Regions from separate parts of the Homo sapiens genome. Here all the other regions are linked to region 2. Evidence: fine-mapped expression QTL. A gene starts in region 2. Each other region holds a variant in brackets. All regions are shown on one strand. Distances are between the middles of the regions. Region 1 overlaps ADGRA1 (adhesion G protein-coupled receptor A1). Region 2 holds the start of ADGRA1 (adhesion G protein-coupled receptor A1). Region 3 overlaps ADGRA1 (adhesion G protein-coupled receptor A1).

Evidence for each region. PIP is the estimated chance that this variant, and not a neighbour inherited with it, causes the effect.
Region 1: its variant is fine-mapped to the expression of ADGRA1 in fetal neocortex (Walker 2019, PIP 0.95).
Region 3: its variant is fine-mapped to the expression of ADGRA1 in spleen (GTEx, PIP above 0.99).

The regions. Positions count from the first base shown.
Region 1 is chr10:133,126,581-133,134,752 of GRCh38, reverse strand. ADGRA1 (adhesion G protein-coupled receptor A1) reads right to left here. Exons shown (of 7, transcript NM_001083909.3): 6 at 7,422-7,520; 7 at 3,078-6,424. The coding sequence ends at 5,242. Among named protein-coding and RNA genes, the nearest start is that of KNDC1, 30 kb to the left of the region's middle. RefSeq lists enhancers at 6,517-7,229, 7,230-7,941. The variant C/T (reference allele first, on the strand shown) is at 4,932.
Region 2 is chr10:133,084,078-133,092,249 of GRCh38, reverse strand. It overlaps ADGRA1 (adhesion G protein-coupled receptor A1), which reads right to left and starts at 4,326. Exons shown (of 7, transcript NM_001083909.3): 1 at 4,112-4,326; 2 at 3,338-3,542. The coding sequence starts at 3,340. It overlaps ADGRA1-AS1 (ADGRA1 antisense RNA 1), which reads left to right and starts at 5,553. Exons shown (of 3, transcript NR_111905.1): 1 at 5,553-5,761; 2 at 6,604-6,719; 3 at 6,857-7,006. RefSeq lists an enhancer at 2,410-3,172.
Region 3 is chr10:133,106,551-133,114,722 of GRCh38, reverse strand. All of the region lies in intron 5 of ADGRA1 (adhesion G protein-coupled receptor A1), which reads right to left. Among named protein-coding and RNA genes, the nearest start is that of ADGRA1, 23 kb to the right of the region's middle. The variant C/TC (reference allele first, on the strand shown) is at 4,268.

The DNA.
Region 1 (8,172 bases), 43 kb before region 2:
CTCCGAACCAGGGCAGAGACATGGGTACTAACCCAGGCTATCCCTCACCAGGGTACTCACTCCACTAGGACCTAGACCAAGGGTACTTTCTGGACCATGACAGAGACATGAGTACTAAACCAGCCAATCCCACACCAGGGGTATTCACCCCTCTAGGACCTGGACTTGGAGTAATCTCTGAGCCAGGGCGCAGACATGGGTACTCACCTGCTTTGTCCCTGGCCGATGTCAGCCCTGCACCACTCTGTGGCTTGTTCAGTGACCCTGTCTGGGAGAGGCTGGGGGGCGGCTGGCAGGGAGGGACTTGAGCTCTGGGTGCCTCTGCTGCCGGTTCTGACCTGCAGGCCTCCCTGAAGGGCTATGTTGGGTGTGGTTGGAGTTGTGAGTAGGGAGCAAGGTGTCTGTTGCGATTACAGGGGAAGTTGTTGATATTTATGTAGAAAAGAAGTAATTAGAGTGAGTTTAAGAGTGTCCTCTTAACAGTGGTTTTCCCAGTACCCACGTCCTGGGATGGGAGTGGGAAGGAAAGGCAGGCCCTGGCAACCCCAGTCATTTCCTGGGACACAGGACAGAGGTGTGAGGTCCAAGTCGGCGCCCACTTGGGCCTGAGCGGTGCTGCTTGTCCTCTGGAAGTCGGCCGCCTGCAGATCTGTGGCCGGGGGGATGCAGCCTGGGGTCTGGGGTCCTGAGTCCTTGCAGGACCGTCTGTGGGCAGCCACGTCTGTGCTCAGGCACTGGCCCTGCAGCCCCCAGGAGGCCTGGACAGCCAGTGTTGGGAGTTGCCCTGGTGGGCCCCAGCTCACCCAGCAGCCCTCCCTCCAGGCCCAGAGGAGCCAGCACGGCGGGCATGAAGGGCTTGTCTTGCTGCTGAGCCCACTTGCAGCCTGACCTGTCTCACTGGGAGACACTGATCTTCTAGCTGTGGCCCGAGGGACAGGCCTCTCACGTGTGCCAGGCCCTCCTATGCCCCTCCTGCTCCGCCTGCCCTGAACAACCACAGCACTCAGATGCCTGCTCAGACTTGGCCCCAGGGACCCTCCGAATTGGCTTCTCTGTCCCTGTGCCCAGTAGCCTCCCCAGATGCCCACCAGGCCCCGCCTCCACCCCACCGTTGACCTGGCCTCACAGCACTTTGTCTGTCCTCACGGGGTGCTCACCCTTTCCCTCCCCCTACCCCGTCCCCTGCCTCCCTGGGCACACGCTGCCCCTGCAGACACAGGGCCGGCCTCCATCTGCCCAAGGTACCCCCACCCCACCCACCTCAAAGGCTACAGAACAGTCCTTGGTCTTGAATACAACAGGCAGAATTTCTGGCCGAAGGTGCCTGTGCAGTAAAGGCTCTGCAGAAGCCTCTAGGCTCAGGTACAAACCCTGGCAGTGCAGTGGAAGGGAAGCGTGATGAAGTGAGACACAGAGGAGCAGGATCCACGTGAGACACGGAGGAGCAGGGTCCACGTGAGACACGGAGGAGCAGGGTCCACGTGAGACACGGAGGAGCAGGGTCCACGTGAGACGTGGAGGAGCAGGGTCCACAGTCCCCGCACAGTGAACACACCCACTGTTCCAGCTCAGGCCAATGCTGGTCCCGACAGCGTCCCCCGAGAAATGCAAGCACCAAGGGTCAGGGAGCAAGTGGCAGGACCGGTCAGGCACCATCTGGGCACTGGGTAGGTGTGGAAGTGCCCGTTGCAGCCAGTCTCTGCACATGGGGGGCATTCACCACATCAGTGCAGGGCCCTGAGCTCCTTCCAGGGTCCCTAGACAGGCTTCCTGCAGCTGCTGTCACTGATGGGCGACACTGCAGCCTAGCGTGTGGCTGCTGAGCTGCCTTCTGCCAAGGCCCTCCCAGGGGCCCAGTGCTCCCATTCAGCCTGCATCCCTCCTCAGTCCTGCTCAGGCAGGTGGAACGTGCGGGCCCCAACCCAGCCCCTTCCCCGCAGAACCAGTGGGGGCTCCTCAGCTGCCCAAAGCCCCTGCAGGGGTGGCTCATTCAGAGACAGAGCAGGCCGACCAGATCTGAGCCCTGTCTGGGGCCTTCGTGGGCGACGCGGCAGATGCCACTGTGTGTCTCCCAGGACTGGAGGCCTCCTCAGCTAGGACTGCTCCAGAGAAGAACTGTCAGGGTCTGGAGGCACAGGCAGCTTCTGCTTCCTAGTCCTTTAAGCTGACTAAAGTCACCACAGTGTTGCCGTGTGGTAGTTACACACCCGCACGGAGACAGGGCGGAGGGGCCGCCTCACAGTGTTCCTCCAAAGAGCATGCACACACATGCACACTTACCCTCAAGCACACGTGCATGTGTGCACACAACTCCCACAGAGGGACCTACACACCACACAGGCGCACACTCTCACACACTAACACGTCAACACCCACACAACCCACAAGCCACTCACAAACACACAGGCACACAGGCAAGCACACTCACACAGGCCAGCATACACGCACACTCCATCGCATCCGACACGCAGGCACACGGACTCACACACACACAGGCACACAGGCACACTCGCACAGGCCAGCATGCACGCACACTCCATTGCATCCGACACACAGGCACACGGGCAAGCACGCTCACACAGGCCGGCATGCACGCACGCTCCATTGCATCCGACACGCAGGCACACGGGCACACTCGCACAGGCCGGCATACACCCACGCTCCAGTGCGTCTGACACGCAGGCACACGGGCAAGCACACTCACACAGGCCGGCATGCACCCACGCTCCATTGCATCCAACACGCAGGCACAGGGGCACACTCGCACAGGCCGGCATGCACCCACGCTCCAGCACGTCTGACACGGAGGCACACAGGCAAGCACACTCACACAGGCTGGCATGCACCCACGCTCCGTTGCATCCGACATGCAGACACACGGGCACACACAAGGAAGGAAGTGGCACGAAAGTCAGGTGCGGAACGCAGGGTCTGGCTCTGGCTTCATGGTCTGGTGGAAGCTGACTCCGAGCCAGGAGCCCCTCAGGGTGGTTGGGCTGTGGATGTTTATGCTCCAAAACGTTACGTGCAATTGGATATGGCCCAACACCAGTCCCAAGTGGACTCATGAGGCTAAGTCAGTATAGAAACACACAGAGGTTTAATGTTCAATGTTGACTTTCTTTGGTTGAATGGTGGGACGCCTCTCTGCTCAGCCGGGGGCACTGAGGGTGGAAAGTTCATGAGGGGCTGCAGGGGCCAGGGAGAGCAGCCCTGCCCCAGGATCCAGGACACAGACGGGGGCCACACATTCAGGTGCCCCTCTACCCCATCGAGGGTGAGAAAAACACACGGGGATGCTATTAACCAGCCTCACAAAGAACAAACAATGCCAAGACTGTATTTTTGTGTGGACGGTTCTGCACCTACAGTGCGTACACAGCACAGCGTGGGGATTCGGGTTCACATCAGCTATGGAAGCAGGTGAGAAGGTGAGGCAGAGGCAGAGCCACCTGGTGGTCCTCCGACGGCCCGTCTGGTCGACCTGTAAGGACACACGGGGTTTGCTGGGAGGAGCACGCTGTGGGTTACTGAGTCACGGTCAAGTTTACCGACACCCCGGGAAGTGAGGCTCCTCATACTCAGATACTGAGTGCCAGTCTCCGGAGAGCCCTTCCACCGAGCAGGTGCTGGGAACACTCCCCGACACCCCTCTTCTCGGAGGTGCACGTTAGGGAGGCTCTGCTCCTGGTGAGACCTCCCAACCGGATAGCACAGCGCACCGACGAGTCTGCTGACGTTGACGTTTGCAGGGTGAAACAATCTCCAATGCAAACCCAGTGTGTGGGTGGCTGGAAAACACACTACTACGTGTGTGTGCACATGTGCACAGCAGGTGCAAGTGTGTGTTAAGTATGTGTGCACGTGTGTTTGTGTGTGATATGCACGTGTTTGTGTGTGTGCGTGTGTGTGATATGCACGTGTTTGGGTGTGTGTGCGTGTGTGTGATATGCACGTTTGTGTGCATGTGTGTGATATGCACGTGTTTGTGTGTGTGCATGTGTGTGATATGCACGTGTTTGGGTGTGTGCGCGTGTGTGATATGCACATGTGTTTGTGTGTGTGCATGTGTGTGATATGCACATGTGTTTGTGTGTGTGTGTGTGGGTGCACATGTGTCACAGACAAGGAGGAAGAGGGAGGGAGGGAAAGCTGTGCACAGTTTCACACCCATGACCCTCTGGACTCCCTCCCACCTAGGGACGGGCCACTTGCTTTCACAGAAGTCTTGCTGTCATCCACATCTGTCCTTTGAGTCAGGGCTTGGTACCCAGATGTTCATGGAGACGAGAAAAAGGGAAAGGGATTTTGTCCATGAGAATCTCCCGTCTGTCAGCCCCTTTTCTTTTTGGAATAAACCTTCGTGTTGCTAAGTGCCTATACTGGAGTGGAATCCAGTCCCAGCGGTGGCTGGTTTTGGAAGTCGAGTCTTCACTAAAGGATGTCTGGGCATTTTCCCAAGCCTTGGGCCCGTGAAAGCCCCCCATTGGCCCTCTGAGGCTGACAGCCATCCCCAAAGTCCAGAGCAGCCCCCAGCATCTGTGGTGCTCTCAGCCCTGCAGGGCTGGGGCTACGACAAGGACAGGGCTGACAGGGCACACTGAGTGGGCAGAGGTGTGCAGGGGCCCTGTGAAGCTGCAGGGGTGGCTCAGACACACGACAGCGGAGGGTCCCGAGGGTTCTGCCCAGAGCGAGAATGCTGGGGACAGACCTGCCGCCGCCACCCCCGGAGTAGAACGCAAGACACACACATTGAACACTGGGAAAGGTCAGGGCAGCCCCCTCCTGCGATCTCGGCCCTGCCCGGCCACACCAGGGGAAGCCAGGACTCCGTGGGCAGCAGGGCATCTCGGGCAGGGCCATGCTGGGGTCTCAGTGGGTCCTTTGATGGAATCCCCTGCTCTGCCTCTAGGGTGCCCCAGGACTGGAGA[C/T]CACAGGACAGAAACCGGATGACCGTGTGCGGGACCAGCACGCGGAATTGGGATAAGGGGAGTGGGCGTGGCCCGGAGCGTTTCCCCGCTGAGGTCTTTCACAAGGAAGGGGCAGGGGTGTGATCACAAGGAAGGGGCAGGGGTGTGATCACAAGGAAGGGGCAGGGGTGTGATCACAAGGAAGGGGCAGGGGTGTGAACGGCTTCTGAAAGGCGGGGTCACTTCGGTACCCCCAGTGACCTCATGTGGCAGATGGGCCCCCCACTCTGCTCTGAAGCTCCTCCAGGAACACCGTGTCCTCTGCCCCCATCTACACAGTAGTTTCGTTTTTCCAGGGTCCCGTTCGGATGTTGCCGGTCCCGTCGGTGCCAAACGGCAGGCCTTCTAGCAATTTACCCTTGGGCAGCCCGTTCTGGCTGGGGCCACCAAAGGGCAGGGACTGTGTCCTCCGCAGCATCTCCAAGTGGCCGGGCCCGAGCGCTGCCTCCCTGCCCGGCTGCGTGGGGCAGCTGTAGAGGGCAGGGCTCCCATCACTGCCCTCGGGCTGGGTGACCATGGGGAAGGGGTCGCCCTGGGTGCAGCAGGCCAGCGTGTGTGTCCCCGCCGGGCCATCCAGAGAGCTGGGGGGGCTGTCTGTGCGCGAGCTGCGGGGGCTGCCATCCAGGCTGGATGGGATGTGGTAGGCGTACTCGGGCTCCTCTGCTGGGTGCCGGCTAAAGTAGGGCGGCTTAGTTCTGCCCTGAAGGCACCCGTGCAGGTGGGGGTCGTGCCCGAAGGCGCCCTCCTCCTGCAGGTGCACGTGCGCCTCGTCCGCCGTCAGTGGCTCGCAGTGCATCTTGGCGCAGCACGGGGTGGCCGGTGACAGGCAACTGGCGTGGCCCTGCGCGGCCTGCAGGTTGGTCATCTTGCAGGGGCCCGGTGGGTGCGCGAAGCCCCGTGGCTGGCCCAGTCCCGGCGAGTGCAGGCAGGCGGCGCGGCCCAGCGCGGCCCCGTTGGCGTCAAGTGCGGGGTGGGCGTCCTTGCGGGGCGGGCAGCATGCCCACCAGCACTGCCACACGTCCTCACGCTTGGCGCAGTGGTGGATGAGCACGAAGAGTCCCAGGGTCACGCAGAAGGCGCCGTACAGGCAGCTGAAGACCATGTCCAGGAAGTGGCCCTGTGACACCGCCAGCGCCCCGAAGGCCCACGTGGCCGTGAACAGGAACAGCGTGAAGGCGGCGGCGCGCAGCTGTGCCTGGAATGAGTGCTCGTTCTGCAGCACGGAGGCGCCGGGGGCATCGTGTGCGGGTGGGGTGCCTGGCCGGATCCCACGGCCGCCCTCGGGTGTCGCCAGCCGCCGCTGCTCCTCGGGCTGTGTGCGCAGCTCGTACCTGCGCCCTGGGTGGCGCCGCAGCTGCACGTAGGTGCCCAGGAAGTACACACAGGTGACCAGGGTGATGATGGCGGCTGGGCCGTAGAAGGCGCCCAGGCTGGGCTCCCAGGCCATCCAGCAGCTGTGGGGAGACGCACGTCAGTGTCAGCGGGGCCAGCACGGCCAGGACTCAGGACGCCCCCTGCAGAGCAAAGGGCCCTGCACCCACCCGGCCTAGCGAGTGGCTTTGCACAGCTGCGGCTTGGGGGCCTTGGGCGTTTCTAGAGTCGCTGAGAGTGTGGATGGGAACCGGGCCCTATTGGCCCTACCAGCTTGGGAGGTGGGGTAGCCAGGAAAGTGTCCCAGGTGCGGGTAGAGGCAGAGCCAGGCAGGGGGCCAGGTGCAGGGCGGGTCTGGGTGGGCAGGGGCAGGAAGGACAGAGCTGGGTGGGTGGGGCTGGTGTGGGGTGGGTGGGGCCAGGAAGAGGTGAAGTGGGGTGGGCGGGGCTGAGCAGAGGGCAGAGCTGGATGGGAGGGGCCAGGCAGAGGGTGGAGCCTGGTGGGCGTGGCCAGCGTGGGGTGGGCGGGGCCAGGCGGAGGTGGAGCTGGGTGGGCGGGGCCAGGCGGAGGTGGAGCTGGGTGGGCGGGGCCAGGCGGAGGTGGAGCTGGGTGGGCGGGGCCAGGCGGAGGTGGAGCTGGGTGGGCGGGGCAAGGCGGAGGGCAGACGGGCGGGCCATCCTGGGGCCGCAGAAGGAACTGAGGGCCCTGAATGAGAGGTTCCAGGCTGGCTCTGGGCACTGATGGCTGGACCGCCGTTCCTACTCGATGGGGTTTCCCTTCTCAGCTGAGCTCTGTGCTGTTGCCAAATCGCTATTTGTCCCCAGGCCCCTCCCATAGAAGGCAAACCAGGCCTGCCTTGTCCAAAGGCAAAGATTAGGTTGGACTCCCTGGGAGAGGAGGGGGCGCTGCGCACTCCTCGGGGGTGCGAGCTGGGAGGGGCGCAGCTCTCGGCAAGCCCCAGGTCCAGGCCCAGGCCTTGCTGCTTCGTCCTGGGCTTCCCCACCACAGGTGCCTGGGAGGGACCTCAGGCAGAGCCCACCCGCTGCTCCCAGCTCCCGGTTCTGGGTGCCCGGTACTCACTACGCCGTGTCCTCGTCCTCTGTCCCGTAATTCCTGATGTTCGTGGCAGCCGTGACCCCACAGATGATAAAGGGGACCCCTCCGCTGACGAGGTAAAACCTGCCGGGGAGGAAGGCGTTGACCCCCTTGCAGACGCCGCCTGCATCCTCCGGGGTCAGCGCTGTCCCTCCCCCACTCCGCGGGGCAAGGGAGAGCAGCGGGTGCGGGCGGAGCAGGAGGAGACCAAGAACCCCGACCCCCGACCCCCGACCCCCGACCACTGACCGAGCAGCCAGTGCCGGCCTCGCTGGCCTCCCGCGGGCCTCTGCGCCTGGAGAGGGCCCTGACCAGGTCCTTTCACGGGTGGGCCCCGGGAGAGCTCCGTTGGCTGCGGACTTCTCTGCAACTGCAGGGAGCCCCTGGCTACAGGCGGGACTGCTCCCCGGGGCAGCGTGGGGTCACACAGGGAGCTGTGCGTCCCACCGGGTCCCCAGGTCATGGCCCCTCCCCGCGGGTAGTGCGTGGCCAGTGACCAGCAGTGCCCCGTTTTAAACAGTTTTAAGGCCCCGCTCAGCCTCAGGGGAAGAAGGTCGGAGGGCCGAAGTATCTGCTCCCTGTCAGACCGAGGAACCCCGCCTTGGAGGGGCAGAGTCTCATCCTGACAGGCACAGCCCGAGCCCAGGGCAGGGGCTGACCTTCCCCTCTGCAGGGCCTGGCAACGGTGCTGAGGGCGCCCAGGGATCCAAGCGGGATGCAGCGTGTCCCGGACCGG
Region 2 (8,172 bases):
AGACTAAAAAACAACTAGCTGAAAAGAACTCAGTATAGCTCTGAAATGTTCGTACGCGCGACCGACCATCCTTACGCCCTGTGAGAGGCCCTGCGTCCCGGGCCCCTCCCACCTCCTGAATGCCCATTCCTGGCAGAGGCCAAGGGGTAAAATTTGAGCAGAGATAAACCCACCTCATGTGGGCTCACGTACTTCCTAACAACTCAGAGCTCCGAGTCTCCCACAACCTGCCTTTGGGCCAGGACCCGATCCTGGTTCTCTTCAGGGCGGACTTCACATGGGTCCGGCCTCGGGGAGCAGCTGCAGGCTCCTCCTCACTCTCGGCCTCCGAGACTCCCCTTCCTGGGGGCACCGCCAGGAGGCTGGCCTTGACCTTGGGCCTGTCACCCTCCGGTTGGAGGTCTTCACCCTTTGGCTACCCGCCTCGTCTCCTTGGAGGTTTCGAAGGCACTCTGTCCTTTCAGAAGCTGGGGAAGGAAGTGTTAGACCCAAGGAGCTCCCTACACACACCAGGTCTCTGGGGTCCCCCAGCCCAAGCTTGTCCTCGCACTCAATCCCGGCATTGAGAACATGCAGGGTGCAGCAAACAGCGCCTCTGATGACCAAGAGTCAGCCCTGAATTGAGAGCTGGAAGGGGCTCGGTTGAGTCCCCTTTGAGAGCCTCCACCCTACTCACAGAAAGCTGGCAGCTCACAGATGACCACATAGAAACACAGATGCTAACCAGGCAATGGTGCCATCGGCACAGGGCCTGAACCCTGAAGGGACGATGAGCTCATGCTCCCAGCTGCACCTAAATATTGCAATTGTGGAATGAAAGTAGCCACAGAGGGCCAGACGACATCTTCACACCACACCATATCCCACAGCAACCACACTGCACCAGCCACACCGCCCATCCCACGGCAACCACACTGCACCAGCCACACCGCCCATCCCACGGCAACCACACTGCACCAGCCACACCATCCAACCCTGCAGGTGTTTCCCCATAGGTGCCACACCCAGCGCAGCCCCAGGCCTCCCAGTTGGCAGGATCTGTGGCTTTTCAGCCTCAAATTCAGGCCCTCGAGAACAACTGTTCTCTGAGTTAAGTGTGAGGACTGCAAGTTACAGGGTGCGAAGTGACACCTATTTCATTTCGGAGCCTGCTGGAACGTAAGTCCTGATAGCACCCCTTGCGGAGACAGGCAAGTTCACATTTGCTTTTGCTCGTTAACAGTGGTGACGGAGACACAGCTTGCAGAAGGAGGTGCCCCAGCTTTAACCACTGGACAGGTGGCCTGCAGGTCCTCCAGAGGGGAGCAAACTGTCCATCCTGTAGAGCACCATGGGCCGACAAACCAGCCTTTTGAGAGGACGGCCTGGCCCAGCCAAGCTGCTGGACAGCAGCTCAGAATCCAGGGCTGACTCATGCCTTTGTGCCTGGCCAGGAGCGATGCCACCAAAGAATCTGACCTGTGACCTGTGCCCTATGCCCTTACACTTGGGAGCTCAGCAGGCAGCTTGCCCCTGGCAGGCGTCAGGAGCCCCCCAGAGCACAGCAGTGGGGCAGGCAGAGTCAGGGCCACCCTGCCCTGGCCACGGCCTCCAGGCTTCCTTCTCAAGACCCCATGGCCATGGGGTGAGCCTGCCCAGGTATCTACGCTGTGAACTTGGAGACACGTGCTGTGAATTACGCTGTCACACTACGCTGTGAACTTGGAGACACATGCAGAAAAATGCTGCACCAGACTGATGCAGCACGGGAGGGCAACTCCTCACACTTTCAGAGATTTTCTCAGGTGCAAATGTTACTTGTTGTGAATAAAAACAGTGAGCTGCTGAAATGCCACACTCTCCAGGCAGATCGAGCTCAGCAGGCTTTCACAGTCTTGGGTGAGCAGGAGCTCTGGGCTGCCAGGCCGGCTGGGACCGGGTGGCCCCGGGCCGAGGAGGTGGTAGCAGGAAGCTCCACCAGGAGCCAGGAGCTGAGAGGAGAGTGCACGAACAGGCTCAGCCTGCGAGGGGTGGTGCCCTTCTTGGATTGGGGAGGCCCCCGCACAGTTGTTCGCAGAAGGGCCAAGGGTTAGAGAGGAGGAGGCGAGGAAGGGGATGAGAGGGACCCCCGGGCTGCGGCAGCACCCCCACCTTCAGAAGCCCTTCTCCGTTCACTGTCCTCTGTCAATGACAGTTTTCCATTTTGCAAATAAGGGTCTCAATTTGAGGCTGAAAAGCCACAGATCCTGCCAACTGGGAGGCCTGGGGCTGCGCTGGGTGTGGTACCTGCGGGGCAACAGCGATGGTTCCTGAGGCTGGTGGGAGCCTGGGGGCAGGCAGGAGCCCTGGGGCTGGCCTGCTGCCCCCTGAGGTGCTGCTGGTGCTGGAGACGCAACCTTGTCAGGTGTCTGAAAGGTAAGTGCGGAGACCTCAGCCAGCCTCAGAGGTGAAGCAGCCACTGGAAGACGATACTGAATGTTGGCAAAGGCATCTCTCTTGCTTGGACATTTCGAACGGAACAAGAAGAAAATGAGCAAGTGACTCAGACCGATGGCTCCTTATGCAGCGAACACTGGGTCTGCTCCGAAGCACGCCAGCCGGCGTCTGTGGCGGCCGCACATTCTAGAGGCCATTGGCATTCTCTGCACGTGCCCTGGGTCCTCACCGCCTGTCAGCTGTCCCTTACCAGCACACACAATGCATTGTTCACTCAGCTGTCAGCCCTTCCGGAACCCAGACATTCAGCAACTGCAGCAAAAGCTTGCTGGTGCCTCAGGGAGGGACCCACGATGGGCTCGGCTAGCCGATCCAGCCAGCTGCCAGCCACGAGCCCCTTCCCGCTGAAACACCCTTCCCGTGCCTGCCGTGTGCGCGGCCGCCTTCTCTCCGCCACAGCCTCCACTGCTGAAGCCCACCTACGTCTGTCCGCACTGCCTTTCATCAACTTTCTAATGGGAAGGGGCCGGCAGGGTGGCGTGGAGGAGGCCGGTGACCAGGGTGGAGGGGCTTGGGGTGGCAGGGACCCCAGCCCAGGCACAGACCAGGTTTTCACAGGGCACGGATGCCAGCTTTGCGGGAGGGACGTCGCCTCCATTGATTAAATGATTCCACATTGCCATATGCCTGCAACTCATTAGTATGATCAGCACCCAGCACGCGGGGAGCAGAGGTGCCCAGACACGCGGCCTGTCCCCGGCCCCCACTCCACAGAGCCTCCCACCCCGGCACTGAGCCCGGAAGCCCGGTCACCAGCTCGCCATTCCACAACTTTTCCAGCCTGGGAGTCCCCATACGGGTGGCCGCCCCCCCGCAGCGGCCTAGCCCCCAGCTGCAGGACCCCCGGGACCCCCGTACTCACCATGAGCGCTGCAAAGTTGCGGAAGCGTGAGCGCCGCTGGAGGAGGCGTCCAGGGGGAGGCGATCAGGTGGCGCCCTGCTCCCCGCCAGCCTCCATGGCCTCTGGAAGGTCAAAGTCCCAGACGGCGGCCAGGAGGTCGCGCTCCCGGGCCCCTGGCCTCAGGGTGACCGCGGCGGGGCGGGCGCAGTCCGGGAGCTGCTCCCATCTGTGAAGACAGCGGCGGTCAGCGGGGCGGGCGGAGGGTCCCCGCGGAGGGCAGCTCGCAGCCCCGACCCCGCCAGGGAGCAGCCGCGGCCCCTGTCGCTCCCTCCCCTCCGCGGGCGGCCTGGGGGCTGCGCCTGGGGCTGGCGGAGGCGGTGCCGGTGGGGACCGGTGGGGGGCTCGGACCGAACGCGCCAGCGGCAGATGCGTCTCCTTCTCCATATTTAAAAATCAATCTGCGCCCCACTCCCGGCTCCGGAGCCAAACTCAACCATCTCGGGCTGCACAAAGCCAGAGGCGCGCCGGGGGGTTTGCACCGGGAACCGGCACCGAGTGACCCGCCCGCCCCAGCCCGGCCGCGGCGCCTGCTCTGCCTGGATGTGGCTCGAGCTCCGGGCCGGGCGCGCGGGGCGGGGGCCCTGGATTATCCGTGGCGCCTCCCGCCCCAGCGGAGCCGAAAGTTACTCGGAGCTGCTTTCCTCGCGGCCAGTGTCACCTCGGGGCGCGAGCTTTTCTGCCGAGCCGCGGCCCCGCGCGTCCCTCCCGCCGCCCAGACCCGCGCGTCCTTCCCACCTGCTGTGGCCGAAGCGGCTGCCGGGGCGGCCGGGCCGCGCTCCCGGAGACAGACGCGCTGCGCTCCCCCCGCCGGGGACCCGCTCTCCATTCGCGAGGGCAGCGGCCGAGCTGGGACCGAGTTATCAACAGATTGCGGGGCTGCGGCGCCGGCCGGTGAGTCACAGCCCCGCGCACGAGCGGCCCAGCCCGGCCAGCAGCGCCGCCGCCTCTGCGCGCACCTCCCGCGGCGACAGCGGGGACCCGGGGCCGGAGGCAGGCGCGTAACCATGGGGACCGGGGCGGGCGATGGCGGCGGGCGGGCTCCTGCCGCAGGGTGGGGATGGCTCTTCCAGCCGGGCGGCCGCCGTCACACTGCAGAGCGTATTTAAAGAGACACCTCGCTCCGCGCTCGCTCCCCAGCACCAGACCCTCGCCCGAAAACGCCGCCGGGCGGACTGCACGACCCTGTGTTATTCCCAAAGACAATCTCCATCCGTGGAGAAGCTGCAGGAACAGAAATATACACAAGAAAATGGATTTGGAAGGAATTTTCCATCCTTTATTTAACATTCTCAAGTCCAGATATGCCAGAACCGAGGTGCACCTGTCGTGAACCCGTCTGAGTGTGAGTCAGCAGGGCAGCCGCAGCCGGTGTAGACAGACAGGGCCTGTGGCTGTGCAGAAAGCGTCCCTGTCCCCCTACCCCAACCCTCCTGCATCCTGGGCCACAGAGCTGGGCATCCAGAGCCAAGGCGAGTGTGGAGGCCAGGGTGCCAGGGGCGGCGCAGCCCAGCCTCCCACCCGCAGCGAGGTTTGGGCTCTGCACACATCCCACAGGTCCCTATCCTGCCCCAAGGGGCCTCCTACCCGACAAGGTGGGTCCAAGTCCACTCCAGTTTTCGTCACAAACTCCGTTTTCTGGGGCACGTGCTGGCCTGGTGGCAGCCTCAGCAAGAGTCTCAGGAACTGCCCTGGGGGACTCCACACCCCTCCACCTGTTCCCCCTTTGGCCCTGGGTGACCCCACACCCCTCCACCTGTTCCCCCTTTGGCCCTGGGTGACCCCACACCCCTCCACCTGTTCCCTCCTTGGCCTCCACCCTTGCATGGCTACTTCTGCCCCAGGTTCTGTGACACTGGCGCCTGTTCAGGGGGTCCCCAGGCCCTGCTGCCATGGATTTTGAGGGGCCTGAAGGATGTACTATTGGGAGGTTGTCATGAAGACTCACAGAGGCAGAATTAGATGCAGGGGTGACAGCGTTCCGCTTCCCCGGCCTCTCATTATGGGGCTTTTGAGCGGGATGTGCTCAGGGCCCCACTGCCCCATCTAGCTGGTGTTCCCAGAGCCCCTCTGTGGGGACACTGTGCTGGTCCCTGAACTCCAGCTGAGGGACACAGGGTCCAGGCAGGCGACGGTCTAGTTCCCAGCTGGAGACGCTCTAGGCACCCCAGGACCTGGCCGCCCTGACTCCCTGGACACCGTTCCCTTGGAGCCTCGGAGCCCCCCCTGGTGTCCCCTGGGTGATGGTCCTGGACAAGAGGGCTGGGAAGAAGCGGGCAGCAAGGGGAGGATTCTGCCCCAGACGTCCCCAGGCCGGGGGTCCCCATGGGCTCTGCCCTGACGTCTTACTCCTGCACCCAGCGGCTCCCACCACAGAGACTGCTCCAGGTGAGGGTACCACACTGAGCACAGGTCAGCCTGTGTCTCCCGGGAGGCTCCTGGCACATCACAGTTGGGGCCCAGAGGAGGCCCCGGCCGGTGGGGGGAGTGGCCCTGGCTTGTCTCTTTCCCTGCACACGGACTGGAGCCCTGCCCTGAGTCCCACGGGGACTTTGCGGGGGAACTTCTCGAAGGTGCTGTGGGGGCAGAGGGAGGTGGTGGAGCCAGCCAGGCTCTGGGAGGCCCCAGAGAAGCTCCCACTGCCCACCTCAGTCCTAGCTGGTTTTGGGCCCTGGGCTGGGCCCCCACAGGCTCCAAAGGGAAAGGTTGTCCAAGGGAAAGCCCTGGAGGCCGCTGGTATCCGGGTAGGACACACAGAAGGCTACCAGGTGCTGTGGGGGCCCTGGGGTCCGGCACTTGAGGCAGACAGGTCCACTGGCTTGCGAATGTCCTGCTGCCCCCGCACGTGGTGGTCAGGACCCGGGAGGGCTGCCCCTCCCCCCCCATTCCACACCTAGTGATAACCTAGGTGAAGGAGAGAGAGCCAGGGGGAGCTGGCACTGCCACGTGTTCCAGAGCTGCCCTTGGGCAGAGTCTGTGGGGCTCGGCCTTGTGAGGGGTGGGGGCACCGGGTGTCTCCTGCTCACTCACAGCTGCCCCCCAGGGCCCCTCCCCCGCTGCTCTGCGAGCCCCTCCCTGGAGCTGCCCTTGGAGGGCACCTGCTTCAGGTCTCATCTCCAGGGTGGTGCTGGGGACCGGGCACTGTCTCCTGAACAGTCCCACATGGTGGCCTGGGCGGCACGCCTGTGGGATGGGGAAACCGAGGCACAGACAGTCACGTGCTCTTCCAGTTGCAGGTTAGACCCCACTTGCGGTTGTGTGTTCCAGAAGTCTCCGGGCGCTGTGTGGCAGGATGAGGAGCTGCCCCCCTGGAGGATCACGCAGGCCTCTGGGTGGCATTCAGCAGGTGAGCCGGCGGCCGTGTGCCCGGCAGCCCGGGGATGTCAGCACTTGCCCTGCCACCAGAGGTCACTGCCCCGGGCCCTGGGCCCCCGGCCCTCTGCTCACTGTTCATCAGCAAAGCGTCTGCTTTCTGGACTGCAGGGTTGGCTGCGGCACCGGCTGACCACAGGGCCCACCTTTCCAGTCCCGGCAGGAGAGAAGCGTCTCAACCATGTTGCAGGCACACGGGTGAGGGTGCTGCCTGCCTCCCTGACTCTTACCTCCCCAAGAGAGGAAAACAAAAGAAAAAAAGATAAGACCAGGAAATGGAAATAAGACAAAGAAGAATGAAATTTTAAAATCCGAACAAACCCAAACATGCTGTTTCAAAACGTAAGTCCATGAAGAGTCTCGTGGTGAGAAAGACAGAATTCCTAGCCAGGAAAATGCCCCGTGCTTGCCCCTTGGAGGCAGGTGCTCACCACGGCAGGGTCTATCTAGGTGTTTATTAAGGTGTCTCACCACGTATCGCCCGGATTCACCAGAGATGCAGAGGCGGAGGATACGTTCCTGTTTACATTGATACATAGTTACATAGGTGAAGAGCTTTACAGTGAGGAAGCGGCTCACGCGGCCATGAGGGACCCAGGCAGGAGCTGCTGTTGCTGCCCCAGGTGCGATTCCTTCCTCCTCAGGGAGGCTCAGCTCCCCGCTGCAGCCAGGTGGGCCCAGGCAGGCCTCCTTGGCCTACAGCGCAGACGGCCAAGTGCTGGTCACGGCCATTGCATCTACACCACCCCTTTCTCAGCAGCAACTCCACGAGTGCTCGATGGGAAACTGCAGACAGCAGCCTTGCCAAGCGGATGCCCAGGGCCGACCACCGCAGCCCCTCCAGCCACGTTCTCCATCAGGGCAGCCTCCTGCTGGCTTCGGCACTGCAGGTAGCACACCAGCGAGGGGTGGGCCTGTGTGCCACGAAGCGTCATCCATGGACGTGCCACGAAGGGTTATTCTTCTTTTGACTTTTTCTGATGGTTTAAAACTGTAAGAACACACAGCTCACAGTCCACACGGAAGCAGGCATGTGGCTCCTGCCTCACTGTGGGAGGAAAGATGTTCTCAAAAGAAATGGCTGGGTTTGCGGAGGGGTTTGTGGAGGGCCGGGCAGTCTGAACACAGCCCAGCTGGCCTTGGTGGAGGTGGGCCTGGCACAGGGGGGTGGGAGCAGTTCTTCCTGACGCAAATCCTAACGCCTTCAACACTGACCTTCCAAAGAAACAGCTGCTGGACGCCGCCCGACAGCAACGAGAGCCCCACTCCTGAGGCGCGCGACTCTCGAGGGCTTTGTTGTTTATTTGGCACCCGAGGCCCAGGCTCACAGGGTCTCGGGTGCATGGGACCCCCCAGCCCTTCCCACTGCTCTGCGATTCTTCCTCCCTTCTGGAAAGGTCAGTTTGGGGTTCTATTCTGGGAGGGGC
Region 3 (8,172 bases), 22 kb before region 2:
AACCGTGACTTCTGAATTCCGAGAAATGAGGTTGAGAATTCCTGCTAGGATCCAAGAGCTATTTATGTCCATTTGCCTAAGTATCTCCGGAAAGTCACCAGTGAGCCTCGGAAGTGCATCCTGGGCTCCTCGGCATTCGATAACCTCTGAGGGTGGATGCAGGAGGACGCCGCGGGTGTCGGGAGGAAGGTAGGCTGGCGAGACAGGAGTCAGGTGGAGAAGGACAGGGCCACTGTCCTGGGCACCAGCTGTACCCTGCAGACGGCACCACAATGCCCAGCTCCAGACATGAGCTGAGGACGCTTCGTGACTGACAAGATGCTTTGAATGCCATAGCACCGCCGCTCTGGTCCGCTTGCAGTGGGTGCCCAAGGATGGGTCTGCAGGATCACTTGTGCTGTGAAGAGCACCTATGTTCCAGGGCGAGGTCTGTGTCCCAGGACGTCAGGCCACATGTGGCCTCGAGGTACCATCCCTGGACCCAGGCATCAGTGGCGGTGTGTCCCGCTCTGCCCTTGAAGCTCCAGTGCCCTCTGCTCCTGCTCAGGGGAGCTAAGTGTGCGGGCACTGGGCTTGGTGCTGTTCCCAGGGGTGGAGAAGGGGTTGTACCACGTGGCACCTCCTCCCTTCCTCAGCCAGCGCTGCTGTCAGTAGACAACAGGACCGGGCAGGAGACGGAGGTACTCATGGTGTCTAGAGTCAGGGGACCGCCAAAGTGTGAGATGCCAGGTCCTGGTGGCCAGGCCAGGGCTCTGGGTAAGTCCCCGTGCCTGTGGGCCCTTGGTTTCCCCATCTGTAAAGCTCACGGCTGGGCTAGAGGGCCAAGTGGGAGGCCCAGGCCCTTCCTGGCCTGACGTCCGAGGGTCCACAGGGACATGGGGAAGGGGCGGGAGGCTGCTTCACAGATCTCAGAGCTGCTCCCTTCCAGGGTTTTCCCCGCACAAAGCTCCCTCGGCTCCCTCCCACCCACCCCCATCCTTGCCCTCTCCCAGTGAACCCACATTCTTGGAAGTGGCAGGCGCCAGGTCGCTTGCTCGCCTGTGACCTCTGCCCGCCCTTAGGCAGCTCATCCTGAGGACTGGCCTCAGGCACGCATTCCAGATGGAACAGGAGGGAGTGGACACCTCCTACTGGCCATTCCCAGGGCCCCAGTGCCCGAGGGCCCCAGCCCAGTGGGGTCCAAGCCAGGCCCAGTGCGTGGCCACGGGCAGGTCCCAAGCCCAAGGCAGTCTCCAGAGTTTGCCCTGTGGCCTAGAGAGGGTTCCCAGCTGAAGGAGCCCCAGGAAATCACTCATCCATGGGGTGGGGTCAAGCATCCCTCAGCGCCTGGCCAGCACTGGGGAGGCTGCGAGGCAGGTGAAGGCGGGAGCAGGCATCCTCGGCAAGCCGGGCCGTGACACGGAATCTAAGTGCCGCGGTGCCATTGGACTTCCAAACCGAAACACGGCCCACAGACCCCAAATAACTGACACAGCTTACAGACCTCAAATAACTGACGCGGCCCGCAGACCTCAAATAACCGACGCGGCTTACAGACCTCAAATAACCGACGCGGCTTACAGACCTCAAATAACCGACGTGGCCCACAGACCTCAAATAACCGACACAGCTTACAGACCCCAAATAACCGAACCGACACGGCCCGCAGACCCCAAATAACTGACACAGCTTATAGACCCCAAATAACTGACGCGGCCCGCAGACCCCAAATAACTGACACAGCTTATAGACCCCAAATAACTGACGCGGCCCGCAGACCCCAAATAACCGACACAGCCCGCAGACCTCAAATAACCGACACAGCTTACAGACCCCAAATAACCGAACTGACGCGGCCCGCAGACCCCAAATAACCGACGTGGCCCGCAGACCTCCAATAACCAACACAGCTTACAGACCCCAAATAACCGAACCAACACGGCCCGCAGACCCCAAATAACCGACATAGCTTACAGACCCCAAATAACCGACGCGGCCCGCAGACCTCAAATAACCGACGCGGCCCGCAGACCCCAAATAACTGACGTGGCCCGTAGACCCCAAATAACCGACATGGCCCACAGACCCCAAATAACGGACGCGGCCCGTAGACCCCAAATAACCGACGTAGCCCGTAGACTCCAAATAACCGACACGGCCCGCAGACCTCAAATAACCGATGCGGCCCACAGACCTCAAATAACCGACGCGGCCTGCAGACCCCAAATAACCAACACTGCTTACAGACCCCAAATAACCGACGCGGCCCGCAGACCCCAAATAACTGACGTGGCCCGTAGACCCCAAATAACCGACATGGCCCGCAGACCCCAAATAACGGACGCGGCCCGTAGACCCCAAATAACCGACACGGCCCGCAGACCCCAAATAACTGACGCAGCCTGCAGACCCCAGATAACCGATGCGGCCCGCAGACCCCAAATAACTGACACAGCTTGGTGCACTTGATCAGAAAGGGTGGCCGTACTGCAAAATTAAGATGTCATTATTCATGGCTAAATGGGGAATCAGCCCCCGAGCACCTATGAAATCACAAAAGGTCTGCTTGTTTCTGGAGTGTCTTCCTTTTGGCTGGCAAAGGGAGCAGAAAATGTGGAAAGTTCTGTCTACTTAGAGGCCCTTCCTCAAAGTGGGCTGGCCAGCAGGATTAGGAGGGAGATGCCCATGGCAGGCAGGTGGTCTGGAGGCATTAGGAGGGAGGTGTCTGTGGTGGGCAGGTGGTCTGGAGGCATTAGGAGGGAGGTGCCTGTGGTGGGCAGGTGGTCTGGAGGGATTAGGAGGGAGGTGCTCACGGCGGGCAGGTGGTCTGGAGGCATTAGGAGGGAGGTGTCTGTGGTGGGCAGGTGGTCTGGAGGGATTAGGAGGGAGGTGCCCGTGGTGGGCAGGTGGTCTGGTGGGATTAGGAGGGAGGTGCCTGTGGTGGGCAGGTGGTCTGGAGGGATTAGGAGGGAGGTGTCTGTGGCGGGCAGGTTGTCTGGTGGGATTAGGAGGGAGGTGCCCGTGGCGGGCAGGTGGTCTGGTGGGATTAGGAGGGATGGTTCCCGGGGGGGCAGGTTGTCTGGTGGGATTAGGAGGGAGGTGTCCGTGGTGGGCAGGTTGTCTGGTGGGATTAGGAGGGAGGTGTCCGTGGTGGGCAGGTTGTCTGGTGGGATTAGGAGGGAGGTGTCCGTGGTGGGCAGGTTGTCTGGTGGGATTAGGAGGGAGGTGTCTGTGGTGGGCAGGTTGTCTGGTGGGATTAGGAGGGAGGTGTCCGTGGTGGGCAGGTTGTCTGGTGGGATTAGGAGGGAGGTGTCCGTGGTGGGCAGGTTGTCTGGTGGGATTAGGAGGGAGGTGTCCGTGGTGGGCAGGTTGTCTGGTGGGATTAGGAGGGAGGTGCCTGTGGTGGGCAGGTGGTCTGGTGGGATTAGGAGGGATGGTTCCCGGGGGGGCAGGTTGTCTGGTGGGATTAGGAGGGAGGTGCCTGTGGTGGGCAGGTTGTCTGGTGGGATTAGGAGGGAGGTGCCTGTGGTGGGCAGGTTGTCTGGAGGGATTAGGAGGGAGGTGCTCACGGCGGGCAGGTGGTCTGGTGGGATTAGGAGAGGAGGCACCCCTGGCGGGCAGGTGGCCAGCAGGATTAGGAGGGGAGCTGCCCATGGCAGGCAGGTGGCTTGGCAGGATTAGGAGGGCAGGTGTCCCTGGTGGGCAGGTGGCCCAGCCTACCCAGAACCTCCCCAGTTCAGCCACATTTCCACTTAACAGATTCAGAAACAACCCTTCAGTGGGCTGTGCTCACATTGGAGCAGGTGCTTGGGGACCTGGGATCACTGAATTATCCAGCAGCACCTGTGTCCAGGGCCCCATGCAGACATCACTCTGCGGCAAAGGGATTGGGCAGGAAACTAAAGACAAGGAAGGGGAAGAGGCTGAATAGAGGTCAAAACAGAATTCCGGAAAATAAATCTGGATTGTGAGATATGGGTATAGAGGAAGCAGGCTAATTGTTCAGACATGGGCATCAGACCACTGGCTTTTGTTTTGTGTACAAAGGGTCAGCTCAGGGTGCATAATATTTGCCCTTATTCTTTTTCTTCCAGTATTTCTTTATATTTCTTACCGACTCTCTCTCTCTCAGGCTTTCTTTCTTCTCACTCATATAGTTAGAAATGGCAGATCCAAGGAGCTTCTCTCTGAACATTCGACCCTGTGCAGCTCAGTGTTGCTCTGCAGAAGGGCCAGCTCTGGGGCGTGGCAGGTGCCTGGGTCAGTGGCTTTCAGCACATTCCCCACG[C/TC]ACTGCCTGATAAGGCTGCTCTGTGTGCAGGGACGCAGGATGTGGCACTACAGCAGCCTGGGCTGTTTGCATGAACCTTATGACTGACGGCAGCACCTGCCTTCCCGCCAGAGTGTGAGGCTCCGTAGCTGTGGCCAGCGGAGCTGGCAGAGCACACAGGAGTGACCTGTCCCAGCAAGAATGCGGAGCTTGAGCCTGAGCGGCCTCCTGGGCAGAAGTGCGGGGCACACTTTGCTGCATTTTGCTGCTGGAGGAAGGAGCAGGTTCCGTGTGGATCCTCCCCACCTGCCGTCTCCCAGGACAGGAGAACTTTGGAGACGGCACCTGGAGTCTTGGACCCTGCTGGATGTCTTTTCCCTCGTTGGCCCTGTGGTGTATCCTTCTGTGGAGACAAACCACACCCAGGAACGCCGCCGCTGCTGAGTCCTGAGTGTATCTTCCAGCCCCTCCCTGAGTGTATCTTTCTGTGGAGACAAACCACACCCAGGAATGCCACCACTGCTGAGTCCCGAGTCCTTCCAGCCCCGCCCTGAGTGTGCAGAGGCCGTGGGGCCTGACACTGCATGACGGGCAGTGTGCTGCTCACCCAAGCCTCAGAACAAAGTATGAAACTGATTGCTTTCCATCGACACATCCAGCCCAGCTGAGCCTGGAGGCCGATTTCACACATATTTACTACATCCCTGCCGTTTGTCTCTTTCTGGTTTCAACATTTAATCAGGAGGGGCTGGATGCCAAGCCTGGAGAATATGAACCAGGAGGGACCTTCCCGTCATTGTCATCGAGGGGAGGAGAGGTCAGGGGACAGTTGCTCTGCAATAGGAGGTGGGCACCGGGCAGAAGGTCGGGGTCTCACTTAAGAGGAAGCTGAGGTGCAGGGAGGAGGCTGGAATGGAGACGGGAGGTAACCATCCCACTGGAGGGACCGACCCTCAGTGCTCAAAGGGCAGGTGAGGCCAGGAAGGGGCAGACAGGAAGGCTCTGAGCCACAGCTGAGCAGCAATGGGGGGTCTGGGGAGTGGTCGTGGGGGCAAGCAGTCAGGCTTCCAGCTGGGGAGAAAAAGTATCCAGGTGGTGTGGAGGTGGCAGAGCAGGAGGCTGAGAAAGGGACCTGGAGGCCCGCTGGGGTCAGGGCAGTCCACAGAGCAGGAAAGATGAGGTCCAGGGAGCGGGGGCTGGGAGAGGAGGAGGGACAGGAAAGGTGGGGAAGACTCCTGGGCCTGGAGGTGTGGCCTGATCTGGGAAAGGGGGTAGAGAGTTTGGCAAAATGTCTAGCACCCAGACACGAATGCTGGGAGAGCAGTGCTGCTGCTGAGCTGCAAAGACATTGTGGGGGTGGAGCTGGTTCCATGGAGGATATGAGGGGCAGGGGTGGGGCCGGGGCCATGGAGGACATGAGGGGAGGGGTGGAGCTGGGGCCAAGTGGAGCTGGTTCCTTTGTGGGACTGATGGACGGGTGGAGCTGGGGCTAAGTGGAGCTGGGACCGTGGAGGACATGAGGGGACGGGTGGAGCTGGGGCCGAGTGGAGCTGGGACCATGGAGGACATGAGGGGAGGGGTGGAGCTGGGGCCAAGTGGAGCTGGGACCATGGAGGACATGAGGGGAGGGGTGGAGCTGGGGCCGAGTGGAGCTGGGACCATGGAGGATGTGAGGGGAGGGGTGGAGCTGGGGCCACATGCACCCAGTATTGAGCTGTCTTGGGATATCTGAGGGAGGCATCAGGAGGCTGCGGCAAATGTGTGTAGTGGTCAGGACTGGTGGGCAGACTGCAAATGGTGTTTTGTGGACTGGCAACAGAGTCTTGCAACAGAGTCTAGTGTCTAGAATCTTGAGAGTATTGGGAGGTGACAGTGGCCACCATGTTGGTCAAAGGTGAGGGTGCCTGAATCCAAGGAGGCACCACTGTGAGGGGTTGGGTGGCTGAGCCGGTGCCTCTGTGGGCCTGGGGGGTCCTGTGTCCAACACCTCTGTCTCCTCCCTGCCAATCCTCTTCCTCCTTCCCTTCTGGTGTCCCTCCCTGCTTCCTTCTCCACGGAGTCACCCTAGCCCCATTTAGCAGTGCCAAGAGTCCATGGACTCCTCGGTTGAGGCTGCACCTGTCCTTCTCCTAAACTCTCCCCTACAAGGCTGAGGGTGACACTTCTGTTGGCCAAAGGCTCACGCCAGGTTCTGTGTGGTTTCTCACCCACAGGAGGCCCCGAGGCAGAGCTCTGGGGCCAGGGACCAGATTCACACACAACCTACAACCATGCCTGCACTGAAGACACCAGCAGGGCAGCAGGTCCTGCACACTCCCAGGTGTGCTCGGGGAGGTCTGTGTGATGCCTGGTCCAGGCCTAACCTTGAGGCACTCCCTGGCCCCTCGTGCCCACATCCACTCCACTCCTCACATGTGGAGAAAGGGAAGAAGGCTGGGCTGGCCAGGGCAGGCCACACAGCAGGATGTGCAGGGTCACCCACTCCCTCACACCCCTCTGCTGTACCCAAATCACAGAAAAGAAATGAAAAAATGTTTTTCATCATTGTAATGAAGATCTCCTTGCAGAGACAAGCCACCCAAAACCACACTGCATTGATCAAGTGGGGACTCCCTTCATTCAGCTTGACACTAAAAGTTGCAGCACAATTTTAGACAGGGTGGTTTTTTCCCTGACTATCTAGAGATCTGTGAGAATTAAACAGCATATTTTAAAACAACCAATGGGCCAGAGAAGAAATCACAAGGAAAAGCAGAAATGACTATGTGGAGATAAATGAAACAAAAAAACCCACGAGACAGCTCAGGGATGCAGGAAAAGCAGCACTCAGAGGAAAATTCATAGCTGTGAACATCCACATAAGAAAAATGAGCTCAAGTCAACCATCTGATTTTATACCACAAGAAACCTGAAAAGAGAAGAGCAAGCTAAATCCAATGCTAACAGAAGAAAGGAAGTAATAAAGACCAGAGCTGAGACAAATAAAATAGACAACAGAAAAATAAAGACCATCAATGAAACTCAAACTGGCTCTTTAAACAGATCAAGAAAATTGGCAAACCTTTAGCTAGACCGACAAAGAAAAAAAAGAGAGACTCATTTTGTATTGGAAGTTGTAGCCAGCACAATTAGGCAAGAAAAAGAAATAAAGCCCTCCAGACTGGAAGGGAAGAAGTAGAATTATCCTTATGTACAGATGGCGTGATAATTATATATACAGGAAATACTAAAGAATTAACAAAACACCAACTAGAGCCAATAAAGGAACTCAGCAAAGCTGCCGGACACAAGGTTGGCACACAGAAATCGGTTGTGTTTTGTTCACAAACAAATAAGCAATCTGAAAGGAAAGTTAAGAAAAGAACCCCATTTATAATAACATCAAAAGAATAAAATCCCTGGGAAAAAAATTCAACCAAGGAGGTGCAAGATGTGTACACTGGAGACAGCAACGCTTTGCTGGAAGAAATTAAAGAGCTAAATAAAAGGAAAGACGTCCTGTGCTCACGAATTGGAAGACGTGGTGCTGTTGAAACGGTGACGCTTCTTAACGTGGCCTTCAGATGCAATCGTGACTCCAGTGGCGCTCAGAGCGGGCGTGGCCCCAGATAAACACTGCCCAGGAGCCCGCGATGGGCACTCTGAGCCGCGGGGGTGAGACTGTGTGCAGAGACATGACCTTCCGCTTTATCTGTGAGGGTCTTTGGCCTCGATGGCCTTCCCCCAGGAAGCATGCTGCACACTCTGTGTGACGTCCATCCACTCGCCCAGGCCTCACCTCGACAGGATCTGGGATGGGTGTCTGCTGCCGTACCCCCGATGCGGGGAAGCCAGCATCTCATGGCTGGTGCCCTTCCTGGGGGCTCTCCAGTCCCCTGCGCCCTGAGGCCAGGCTGTGCCCATCCTGGGCACCCTCCTTGGCCCAG